Regions from separate parts of the Homo sapiens genome. Here all the other regions are linked to region 1. Evidence: fine-mapped expression QTL. A gene starts in region 1. Each other region holds a variant in brackets. All regions are shown on one strand. Distances are from middle to middle.

Evidence for each region. PIP is the estimated chance that this variant, and not a neighbour inherited with it, causes the effect.
Region 2: its variant is the best candidate, but not a certain one, in a credible set for the expression of SYN1 in whole blood (TOPMed, PIP 0.60).
Region 3: its variant is the best candidate, but not a certain one, in a credible set for the expression of SYN1 in fibroblasts (GTEx, PIP 0.64).

What each region holds. Positions count from the first base shown.
Region 1 is chrX:47,617,891-47,622,062 of GRCh38, reverse strand. SYN1 (synapsin I) reads left to right here and starts at 2,206. Exons shown (of 13, transcript NM_006950.3): 1 at 2,206-2,711. The coding sequence starts at 2,335. RefSeq lists silencers at 1,983-2,192, 1,899-2,193.
Region 2 is chrX:47,597,478-47,601,649 of GRCh38, reverse strand. All of the region lies in intron 5 of SYN1 (synapsin I), which reads left to right. Among named protein-coding and RNA genes, the nearest start is that of MIR4769, 12 kb to the right of the region's middle. The variant T/C (reference allele first, on the strand shown) is at 1,924.
Region 3 is chrX:47,571,674-47,575,845 of GRCh38, reverse strand. ARAF (A-Raf proto-oncogene, serine/threonine kinase) reads right to left here. Exons shown (of 16, transcript NM_001654.5): 16 at 3,938-4,172. It overlaps SYN1 (synapsin I), which reads left to right. Exons shown (of 13, transcript NM_006950.3): 10 at 572-718; 11 at 1,071-1,158; 12 at 1,256-1,844; 13 at 2,847-3,945. The coding sequence ends at 2,982. Among named protein-coding and RNA genes, the nearest start is that of TIMP1, 8.7 kb to the left of the region's middle. RefSeq lists enhancers at 32-538, 539-1,046. The variant T/C (reference allele first, on the strand shown) is at 2,498.

The DNA of each region.
Region 1 (4,172 bases):
TATCTGATTTGCGGGGAGATCCCCATCTGGGTAACACTAGGATTTGGAATGCCAGAGAAGGAATCCTGAAGGGAGGAGAAAAGAGTGGCCAAATCAAAGGCCTGGAGGTGGGACTGAAGCTGGCTGGGTTGGAGGAGGGAGTAGAGGATGGTTTGGGAAGTGTTTGACTTGGGTACTGTGGAAGCCTAGGGGAGGAGGGGATAGAATCTGAGACCTGGGGGTGAGGGGTTCCTGCAGACAGTGGCCAAAGGCAGCCCTCGAGAGAGAAGGAGAGGACATTCCTGGCAGAAGTTACAACACATGCAAAGGTACAGAGGTTGCCCCCTTCCTACCCCTCTCCTTAGAGGTGGGTTAGAGATGTATCCTTTTTACAGATGAGGAAACCAAATCTCAGAAAGATTAAGTCACTTTCCCAAGTGTATGGTGGAGGCCCCACTTGAACCCAGGCACTGTGTCTCCAGACCCCACACTATTACTGCCTTGTTTAAACCAGCCAATGATTTAATGAATAAAGGATGAACAAATGAATAAGTGGATGAGTCACCTGAAAATTCTGCAGGCAAAAGAGACTCCATATCTACTTACTTCTTGCCTATCTTCTGCCACCTCTCCTAGTCCACCATCACTGCTCACTATGGTCAAGGTCCTACCCAATCTGGCCCCTGCTACCACAACCCCCTTCAGCTTGTTCCAGCCACATTGGCACTGGATGTTTCCTCTTCCTGGCACATTCTTAAAAAAATGTGTTGATCATAAAGTGAACATGACCCTTTGGGAATTAACTGGAGTTCTTGTATTCCCTCATCTGTAAAATAGACATTATATTATCCACCCCACTGGATTGTTGTGAGGGTTGGATGAAATGATGCATGTAAACAGCTTAGTTAAGAGTTGGGTACAATCAGTGAACAAATGATTATGAATTAGTGCTTTTATTGTAGTCAGAATCATAAAGATTTGACAGGTTCCCATATCCCACCTCTGCTTGGACTACCTCATTTGCTCATATGCAAACATTATTTGGTACCTACTGTGTGTGCACCATGGGATGGGCCTGCCTCTGTGGAAAGTTCTTGGGTGCAGGGGGAGACAGCCATGGGCACTGATGACATCAGGTAGTTATCGTGAGTTTTGGCGGTGTCCAGAGCAAAGGGATGGTGGCGTATATACCAAGTGTGTTCTGGTGTGGGGGTGGACACGCACCAGGGCTAGGGCTGCAGAGAATGTCTGTGTTGCAGATCTAGGTTTCTCCATGATCATCGGTGGGAATGTGTTTTGTCTGCAAGTGTATGCTCATATGAGTTTCCCTGGGTCTCTGTGTGTCAGTGTGTTACCTGTGTGTGTGGGGGTATGGGTGTATGCATGCATGTATGTAACATGCCCATGTGTGTTACTCTGGACTTGTATGTCTGTATGTATACCTAGATTGGCGTGTGTTCTGTCTGTACATGCCCTCGTATGTTTCCTCACTTTTGTGTGTGTTTATATGTGTGTCATTTCTTGTGTGCCTCCAGGCCCCCCTTGCCACCTTGGGCAAGGGTGTGTACACCACCCAAGTGTCCACCTCCGCTTGTCTGATGCTGTCTGTGACGCCCCCGCTCTCTGCCTAGCTGAGCCTGTGTGGATGTGGGAGACTAATCTCCCCGCGGGCACTGCGTGTGACCTCACCCCCCTCTGTGAGGGGGTTATTTCTCTACTTTCGTGTCTCTGAGTGTGCTTCCAGTGCCCCCCTCCCCCCAAAAAATGCCTTCTGAGTTGAATATCAACACTACAAACCGAGTATCTGCAGAGGGCCCTGCGTATGAGTGCAAGTGGGTTTTAGGACCAGGATGAGGCGGGGTGGGGGTGCCTACCTGACGACCGACCCCGACCCACTGGACAAGCACCCAACCCCCATTCCCCAAATTGCGCATCCCCTATCAGAGAGGGGGAGGGGAAACAGGATGCGGCGAGGCGCGTGCGCACTGCCAGCTTCAGCACCGCGGACAGTGCCTTCGCCCCCGCCTGGCGGCGCGCGCCACCGCCGCCTCAGCACTGAAGGCGCGCTGACGTCACTCGCCGGTCCCCCGCAAACTCCCCTTCCCGGCCACCTTGGTCGCGTCCGCGCCGCCGCCGGCCCAGCCGGACCGCACCACGCGAGGCGCGAGATAGGGGGGCACGGGCGCGACCATCTGCGCTGCGGCGCCGGCGACTCAGCGCTGCCTCAGTCTGCGGTGGGCAGCGGAGGAGTCGTGTCGTGCCTGAGAGCGCAGCTGTGCTCCTGGGCACCGCGCAGTCCGCCCCCGCGGCTCCTGGCCAGACCACCCCTAGGACCCCCTGCCCCAAGTCGCAGCCATGAACTACCTGCGGCGCCGCCTGTCGGACAGCAACTTTATGGCCAATCTGCCAAATGGGTACATGACAGACCTGCAGCGTCCGCAGCCGCCCCCACCGCCGCCCGGTGCCCACAGCCCCGGAGCCACGCCCGGTCCCGGGACCGCCACTGCCGAGAGGTCCTCCGGGGTCGCCCCAGCGGCCTCTCCGGCCGCCCCTAGCCCCGGGTCCTCGGGGGGCGGTGGCTTCTTCTCGTCGCTGTCCAACGCGGTCAAGCAGACCACGGCGGCGGCAGCTGCCACCTTCAGCGAGCAGGTGGGCGGCGGCTCTGGGGGCGCAGGCCGCGGGGGAGCCGCCTCCAGGGTGCTGCTGGTCATCGACGAGCCGCACACCGACTGGTAAGCCACTGCCGCGGACGTCTCCCGTGGGCCTGGGTCCCCAGATCGTTCTTCTGCGAATGAGCAATTATCGAGCGCCGCTTGTGTGCCTGACACCTGGCCCTCTCACCTAAATCTTTTTCCTTTAAATTATTAAGCTGGATGCTTCCTCTGTGCCCCGCCCTTGTCGCCCCCCTCCGCCCCTTAAACCTTGATGGATCCAGGGAGCAATTATCAGGCACCTGCTGCGTACCTGTTCCCTACTACCCCTCCCCCAAAAGTCTTTGGCTTCAATATATCCTATGAGCCTTCGAAAACCGAACGTGTCCTTCCTACCCTCCCCAACCCTTGCCCCATAGGCCTTGTCCTCTAATGGATCTTGTGAGCACTTATCTAGTACCTGCAGTATGCCTCATCCAAGAGCCCTTCCCCAAGGCCTTTGATTTCAATGAGGTTTGTGAGCATTCTTTGAGAGCCTGATACTGTCCTGTTCTCCTCAACCCTTGCCCTGAGGCCTTCTCTAATGGGTCTTGTGAGCATGTGTCCAGTCTATGCTATGTGTCCCACCCCAGCTCCGTCCTTAAAGCCCTTTTAAACTATTTAGTAAACATTGAGTACCTGCTGTGTATCCCACCCCAGCTTCTCTCCAAAAGCTTTGCCTTTCATGGATCCTGTGAGTTTTGATTGGATGCCTTCTCTGTGCCCCAACTCCAAGCCCTCTCTCTGAGGGCCTTTTCTCCAAAGGATCTAGGAAGCATTTGTTAAGTGCCTGATACGTGCCGCACCCCCAAACCCCTTCTCAAACAAATCATTTTCCTCCAGTGAGTTCCATGAGCAGTTTTGAACCTTCTTTGTGTGACTCATCTTCAGACCGTCTCCTCAAAGACCTTTCCCTACAGTGGATCTAGAAAACATTTATTGAGTGCCTCTTGTATCCCCCGTTCTCCAGCTACTTCTTCAAAGACCTTTCCTTTGGTGGATCCATCTAGCATTTATCAACTGCCTGCAGTGTGAGCCTTCTCTAAAAGTTCTTTCCTCCAGTGTATTCAGCAAGCATGCATTGACTGGTGCCTGCTGTATACCCCACCCTCAAACCCTTTCTGCAATACCCTTTCCTCCAGTGGCTTCAGTCTGCATGTATTGAGCACTTTCTGCATGACCCAACCTTAGACCTCTCCATAAAGGCCTGTGCCTCCAGTTAATACAGTGCTCAGATATCTGGCACTTGCTGTGTGTACCATTCCAGTCACTCTTTCCAAAGACCTTTTCTTTTAATCACTCCTTGGAGTATTTATGGAGCACCTGCTGTGTACCTGATTGTGTGCCTTCTTCACAAAAGCCTTTTCTCCTATGGATGAAGAATCGAGCTCCCATAGATCAACTTTCTGCACTCCCATTTCCCCTCCCCATAGGACTTTTCCTTCAGGGATGCAGTGAGCCTTGATCAGGTGACTATATGTCCATCCCCAGCCCCACTCCCCA
Region 2 (4,172 bases), 20 kb after region 1:
CCTTCTTCTATTTTTGGGAAGATTTTGTGAAGATTGGCATTAATTTTTTTTCTTTTTTTGAGACAGGGTCTTGCTGTGTTGCTCAGGCTGGTCTTGAACCCCTGGGCTCAAGCGATCCTCCTGCTTTGGCCTACCAAAATGCTAGGATTACAGGTGTGAGCCACCATGCCTGGTCGGTATTAATTCTTTTTAAATGTTTAGTAGAATTCACCAGTGAAGACATCTGGTCCTGGGTATGTCTTTGTAGGAAGTTTTACTTATTCCTAAATCAATCTCTTCACTTGTTATAGGTCTATTGAGATTTTCCATTTCTTACTGAGTCAGTTTTTGTAGTTTGTGTCTTTCTAGGAATTTGTCCATTTCATCTAGGTTTTCTAACTTACTGGCACATAATTGTTCACAGTACTCTCTTATACTCTCTTATAATACTTTTTATTTCTGTAAGGTCAGTAGTATGTCCACTCTTTCATTCCTGATTTTAGTAATTAGAATTTTCTGCCCTTTTTTATTCTTAGTCTAAAGGTTTATCAATTTTATTGATCTTTTCAAAGAACCAAATTTTTGTTTTATTAGTTCTCTATTTTTAAAATTCTTTATGTCATTTATTTCTACTCTTATTATGTTTTTCCTTGTGCTTGCTTTGGACTTAGTTTGCTCTTTTCTTTCTAATTTCCTAGAAAAAAATGGAAGATTAGGTTACTGATTTTGATATCTTTCTTCTTTTTAGATATAGGCAGTTACAACTATGAATTCTCCTTTAAGCACCACTTTAACTGCATCCCTTACATTTTGATATGTTGTGTGTTCATTTTCATTCATCTCAAAGTATCTTCTAATTTCACTTGTGATTTCTTCTTTGACCTATTGGTTATTTAGGAGTGTGTTACTTTCCACATATTTGTAAATTTTTCAAATTTTCTTCTGTTTTTGATGTCTAATTTCATTCCATTGTGGTCAGAGAACATATTTTGTATAATTTCAGTCCTTTTCAATTTACTGAGATTTGTTTTCTGGCTTAACATATAGTCTGTCCTGAAGAATGTTCCATGTGCACTGAAGAAGAATGTGTATTCTGCCATTGTAGGGTGAAGTGTTCTATAGATGTTTATGAGGTCTAATTGGTTTATAGCATTTTTCAAATCTTCCTTATTGGCCATGCACAGTAGCTCACACCTCTAATTCCAGCACCTTGGGAGTCTGAGGCGGGTGGATTGCTTGAGTGCAGGAGTTCAAGACCATCCTGGGCTACATGGCAAAACCCCAACTCTGCAAAAAATACACATGCACACACAAAAAGCCACATGGTGGCACACGCCTATAGTCCCAGCTACTCAGGAGGCTGAAGTGGGAGGATCACTTGAGCCCAGAAAGTGGAGGTTGCAGTGAGCTGAGATTGCACCACTGCACTCCAGTCTGAGTGAGACCACGTCTCCAAAAAAAAAAAAAACTTCCTTTTTGGTTCCCTGTCTAGTTGTTTTACCCATTTCTTTAAATGAGATATTGAAGTCTTCAGCTATAATTGTTGAATTGTCTATTTCTGTCTCCAATTCTGCCTGTTTTTATTTCATATATTTTGTGCTGTGTTGTTAGGTGCACATATACTTATTATTGTTAAATCTTCTTGATGGATTGACCATTTATGCTTATAAAATATTTTTCTTTATCTCAAGTAACAATTGCTGTTTTAAATTCTATTTTACCTCATATTAGTATAGCTATTCCAGCTCTCTTTTGGCTATTGTTTGCATGGTAAATCTTTTTCCATCCATTTACTTTCAACTTATTTGGGTCTTTGAATCTAAAATGTGCCTCTTACAGATAGCATATAATTAAGTCACGTTTTTCATCCACTGTGCCTATTAACCCTTTACCGTTTGTGCTGAGAACACTCTCTGATGGCACTTGCGGCTGCAGTGTTTACCC[T/C]GAGATAACTTTGCCACAAACTGTCTCATTTTTATTATTATTTTCACATCACTCTAGTATATCGACTTTGGAAACAAAAGACATCATTCTATTTATAGCATTCTGTTTTTAGGAGTGGTATTTCCACTTACAAAATATAGTAATTCTCAATCATTGAAAATGTCAAATCCTAGAAAATGTAACATCCCTACAAATGATGTTAACATCGTTCTTGAACAGTCGTTGGATGAAGAATCATTTGATGAATCTGATTTTTCCAAAATAGATGGTTCTGATGATTCAGATGATTCTGATGATTCAGATGATTCTGATGTTAGTTCAGCTTAGAAATAACTCCAAGAATAGTTTTTATATTTTGTTTTGACATTGAAAATCAGTTAGCTTTGCTTCAGCCTCAAAGAGCATGTTTATATAAAATCTAGTGAGCACAGGCAGCAAGCTGCACGTTTTTTTTTCCTAAACAGGAAAAGGGTTAATCGCAGTGTTTAATTAACTTATGTTATTGTAATTCCTGATAAGGTAGGGTTTATGTTTGCAATTTTGCTATTTGTTTTCTATATCTTATTTTTTGTTCCTGTATTCCTCTAGTAATGCCTTCTTTTAAGTTAAACAGATATTTTCTAGTGTACCATTTTTAATTTTTCTGTTATTTCTTCCCTATGTCTTTTATTCATTTTTTTAATTTAAAAAATTTTTATTTTTTTTTGATACAGGGTCTTGCTCTGTCACCCAGGCCAGAGTGCCATGGTAGGAACATGGCTCATTGCAGCCTCAACCTCCTGGGCTCAAGCTACCCTCCTGCCTCAGCCTCCTGAATAGCTGGGACCACAGGCATGTGCTATCATGCTCAGCTAATTTTTAGTTTTTTATTTTTTATTTATTTATTTATTTATTTATTTTGAGACAAAGTCTCACTCTGTCACCCAGGCTGGAGTGCAGTGGCACGATCTCGGCTCACTGCAACCTCCACCTCCTGGGTTCAAGCAATTCTCCTGCCTCAGCCTTCTTAGTAGCTGGGACTACAGGTGCCTGCCACCACACCCAGCTAATTTTTTTGTATTTTAATTGAGGCGGGGTTTCACCATGTTGGCCAGGCTGGTCTCGAACTCCTGACCTTGTGATCTGCCCACCTTGGCTTCCCAAAGTACTGGGATTACAGGCGTGTGCCACCGCACCTGGCCAATTTTTAATTTTTTTGTAGAGACAGGACCTTGCCATGTTGCCCATGCTGGTCTCAAACTCCTGAGCTCAAGTTACCCACCTTGGCCTCCCAAAGTGTTGTGATTACAGGCATGAGCCACTGCACTTAGCCTGTTTTTTTTTTTTCTTAGTTGTTTCCTTGGGTATTACAATTAACATCATTATTTATATTACTCCAATTAGAATTAATACCAAATTAAGCTCAGTAATACAAAGAAATTGCCTCTATATAACTTTATTCCTTCATCCCTCCTTTGTGCTATTATTGTCAAACAAATTACATCTTTACACATTGTGTGCCCATGAACATAGTTATAGTTATTGCTTTATGCAGTTGTCTTTTAAATCAGGAGTAAAAAAGTGTTACACGCAAAAAAATGCATTTATACTGTCTTTTATATTTACCTATGTAGTTAACTTTACAGGTGCTATTTATTTCTTTATGTAGATTTACATTACTAGCTAGTATCATTTTATTTCACCCTGAAGGACTCCGTTTAGCATTTTTTGTAGAAGTTTGTTAGTGATGAACTATCTCAGTTTTTGTTTATCTGTGAATGTCTTAATTTCTCCTTCATTTTTGAAAGATAATTTTGCTGGATGTAGAATTCTTGTTTGGCAGTCTTTTTCTTTCAGTACTTTGAATATGTTGTCCTACTGCCCTCTGACTTCAAGATTTCTAATGAGAAATTAGCTGCTAATCCTATTGAGGATTCCTTGTATATGATGAGTTACTTCTCTCTTACTTTCAAGATTCTCTCTGTCTTTAGCTTTTATAAGTTTATGATGTGTCTGGGTGCCTATCTCTTTGAATTTATCTTAGTTGGAGTTCAGTGCACTTCTTGAATGCATAGATTAATGCTTTAAATCAAATTGGGGGGATTTTTAGCCATTATTCCTTCAAATAGTCTTTCTTGCACCTTTTTTTCTCTCTTTTCTCTCTCCTTTTGGGACTTCCATTATGTGGGTGTTCATATGCTTCATGGTGTTCCACAGACCTCTAGGACTGTGTTCATTTTGTTTACTTTTCTTCTTCCTGTTCCTCAGAT
Region 3 (4,172 bases), 46 kb after region 1:
ATTCTGCGAACTGGACCGACAGCAAAGCATTTTGGAAAGGACAAAGCACCTAGAAAACCGTGAAGCAGGGATCGGCAAACATTTTCTGTAAAGGAGCAGACGGTACATATTTTAGGCTTTGTAGGCCACGTAGCCTCTGCCGTAACTACTCAACTCTGCAAAAGCAGCCATAGACGATATGTTAAAAAAATAAGTGTGGCTGTGTTCCAATAAAACTTTGTTTATGGACATTGAAATTTAAATTTCATGCCATTTTCGCATGTTATAAAATCTTTCGATTTTTTTCAACTGTTACAAAATTTAAAGACCCATCCTTAGCTCTGGGTCATACAGAACCAGGTGGTCGGCCAGGTTGGGCCCATGGGCCCTAATTTGCTGAGCCCTGCTCTGAAGCACCTTCTAAGCTGTAAGGTACCTTGGAACAGACAAGCCTTCCTCACCGTGCACAATCAGTGCCTCAGACACTGGGGCTCAGCGGCGGCCATGCCCTTGGCCAACTGAAAGCACGGTGTTACTGCCGCCTCAGGTGCGAGGCCTGCCTCTCCCCTCACGGATCCTTTCCTTCCCCCAGGTGGTGGGTTCCTCCATGCCGCTCATTGGTGACCACCAGGATGAAGACAAACAGCTCATCGTAGAGCTCGTGGTCAACAAGATGGCTCAGGCCCTGCCCCGGCAGCGACAGCGGGATGCCTCCCCTGGCAGGGGCTCCCATGGCCAGGTCAGGCCCCTGGCGCTGAGCTAGTGGCTTGAGCTAGTGTGGGGAGGCCGGCCCTGGGTCATGCTGTGCCATGAAGCTGATAATCTGTAGGCTCACAGCATCACCTTTGCACACATGTGGCTGCGATTGCCAATTGTTTAAAACATTGATAAGCAGCTGCTGCCCTGACTTCCCTGAGCACCTCCCTGCCCCGCCCCTGGGAACAGGTCCCCCACCCCACAACCCAGAGTACCCTCAGCTCAGCCACAAGTGGGGCAACACCCAGCGCACAGGGAACCTGTGTCATCACTGGCTGATGCTCCACTGGCTGGTAACTATTTTTAACCTCTCCTGCTCCATTCCTCTGCCGCAGACTCCGTCCCCAGGGGCCCTGCCCTTGGGCCGCCAGACCTCCCAGCAGCCCGCAGGGCCCCCGGCTCAGCAGCGACCCCCACCACAGGGTAAGCGAGAGGCTGGCGGTCGCAGTCCCCTCCCTCAGCCCGCCATCTCTTACCCGCTCACTCTCACGTGTGCTCTTTCTCTCCCTCTGTCCCCCAGGCGGCCCTCCACAGCCGGGTCCAGGCCCCCAGCGCCAGGGACCCCCATTGCAGCAGCGCCCGCCCCCGCAGGGCCAGCAGCACCTTTCAGGCCTTGGACCCCCAGCTGGCAGCCCCCTGCCCCAGCGCCTTCCAAGTCCCACCTCAGCGCCCCAGCAGCCCGCGTCCCAGGCCGCGCCGCCGACCCAGGGTCAAGGCCGCCAATCCCGGCCAGTGGCGGGAGGCCCCGGGGCGCCTCCAGCAGCCCGCCCGCCCGCCTCTCCGTCTCCCCAGCGCCAGGCGGGCCCCCCACAGGCTACCCGTCAGACATCCGTCTCTGGCCCGGCTCCGCCAAAGGCCTCTGGGGCCCCACCGGGCGGGCAGCAGCGCCAGGGCCCGCCCCAGAAACCCCCAGGCCCAGCCGGCCCCACACGCCAGGCCAGCCAGGCGGGTCCCGTGCCCCGCACTGGGCCACCCACCACGCAGCAGCCTCGGCCCAGCGGCCCGGGCCCCGCTGGACGTCCCAAACCACAGCTGGCCCAGAAACCCAGCCAGGACGTGCCGCCACCCGCCACCGCCGCTGCAGGGGGACCTCCGCACCCCCAGCTCAAGTAAGGGGACCCCTACAGCAGCCTTCGCCTTGCTGCTCACAAAGCGGGCCGCTGCCCCAGTAGAGCAGCCCTAGCTCCCTTGCTCCTCAGACCCAGGTCCTATGCAGGGGTCCCACGAACTCTCTCCAGCCTGAGCCAAGCCCTTCCCCCAAGCTTTCGCTCCTCCCGGCCCACCAGAGGCTCCGCACCCCCACCCCAGGAATTTGGTGCCAGAATCCCAGAGAAACTGCACTCAGTTCGAATTCCTCCTCAAAGGCCCTGGGAAAGTTTCCTCCTCCAGGGCCTCCCAGGCACCTGGCTGACCCACCCTCTGCAACTTCCTGCCCAGCCCAGAGCCTTCCCTGCCAAACTCGCCCCCCCGCCACCAACCCATCCCTAAAACTCCTGGCCCGAGTCCTAGTCCTCCTATCATCTGGCTCTTCCCACTCCATCCTCATACTTTTCCTCCTCCTTCACATCCTTCTGGCCCATCTCAGTCTCCCCGCGAATCATCACCCATCTGCCTTTTCTGGTCCATTCCAACTCCCATCCCAGCTCAGACGTCCTCCCTGCCCCACCCAGCTGCTCTGCCTTAGGCTGACTTGCCCAACAGCCTGTCCTTGGTCCAAGCCCTTTCTATGCCCTCCTAGACACCTCACCCTTAGATTGGAAAC[T/C]TCCCTGCTCATCTTCCCCTTTGTATCAAACTAGCCAAGAATTCACAGAGAAGGTTCTGCCCAGGACTCTTGCCACGAATCCCACACTTCACCCTGGATCCAAGTCCTCCCAGCCTGTCCCAGATCTCGCCTCCCTGGCCCAGGACTCCACCCACTCCACCTGAGTGCTCCCAGCCTTGAGAACCTGTTAGGGTCCAGGCCCATGGTGGCAGGTGGGGAGGTCACAGGCACAGCCCCAGGATCAGAGGGGCAGGGCTGGGGCTGGGCCTGGGGTAACGTTGTGTTTCTCTCCCCTTCCTCCCCTTCCTCTTCCCCCTTCCTCCCACGCCTCCACCTTGTCTCTCTCTAGCAAATCCCAGTCTCTGACCAATGCCTTCAACCTTCCAGAGCCAGCCCCGCCCAGGCCCAGCCTTAGCCAGGACGAGGTGAAAGCTGAGACCATCCGCAGCCTGAGGAAGTCTTTCGCCAGCCTCTTCTCCGACTGATACCCCACTCTGAGAACCCCAAAATCCCTGGGCAACCCTTCTCTGGGCCCTGAATCCATTTCTCACTTTTGGAGTCTCCAAATCCCTTGAGAACCCATCTCCCGGTTCTCCAAGATTCCACCTCTCATTCCTCAAGATCCCCGAGTACCTTGAGAAACCTGACTCCTCCTGGCCCTAAATCCGGTTCTCACATGTGGAATCCCCAAGTCCTTTTAGAACCCCACTCGTGGTCACTTCAGGATCTACTTCTGTTTTAGAACCTCCACATTCCTGAAGACCTCCGCCCCTGGTTTCCCCAGAGGGCGTTTTCCTTCCTGGAAGTGCCCAAATACCAGGCAACCCATTGCAGAATCCCTTCCTGGAGCCCTGAAGTTCCTGGAAAACCCTATTTTTGGTCCCAAATCTCTCCAGCACACCTATTTCCCATCATAATTTTCCAAATCCTCAAGAAACCCCTACTGTTGAGCCCCTTCCCATGGATCTTCCATCCCTCTGAAGATCCACATCTTCAAATGCCACCCAACACCTAGCCCCACAAGGATTTCCCTTCACCAGCTCCCCTCAACCTCATTCAATACCTTGGGAGCCCCTCCCACTTCCAGGACCCCTCGGTTCCCCCAGGGACCCCCTCCCCAGTTTCCTGCCTCTGACAGCTGTCTTTAAATATGCAAACTCCACCCATCTTCCCAGAATCCTTTGCACACGGAAGGCCAGTGGTCTCCGCTTCCCCACCTTTGCTGTGGTGTCTGTGTCTGTGACTGACGTGGCCTCCTTTTGTGCCGTGCTTGGCATATGTGGTCCTCGTTCATCGTGCCGCCTGTGGTGATGCGTGCAGTGACGCTGTTTATGTGGTCCGCACCTCCCCCTGACCTTCACTCCTTGCCTGGACTCACCCCACCCCTCAGCGGCTCTGAACCCCAAGAGAAGAGTCGGGAAACAAAATAAACAAGCAAAGGCCCAGCAGAATTCTGTGCTTCTTGGTGAAGAAAGAGAGGAGTCCTTGAATGGCGGGGGAGACACAAAAGGGACCCCCCAAAATCCACATGGGGTGCTGGGAACCCCAAAATCCAGTGGAAGGCACATCAGGCACAAATTCCAGAGAGGTTCTGAGTGGAATCCCTGCCACAAATCCCAGCCATTGGAGATGGAGGAGCTCCCAAAATTTAGAAGTATCCCCAAAGCCAAGAGGA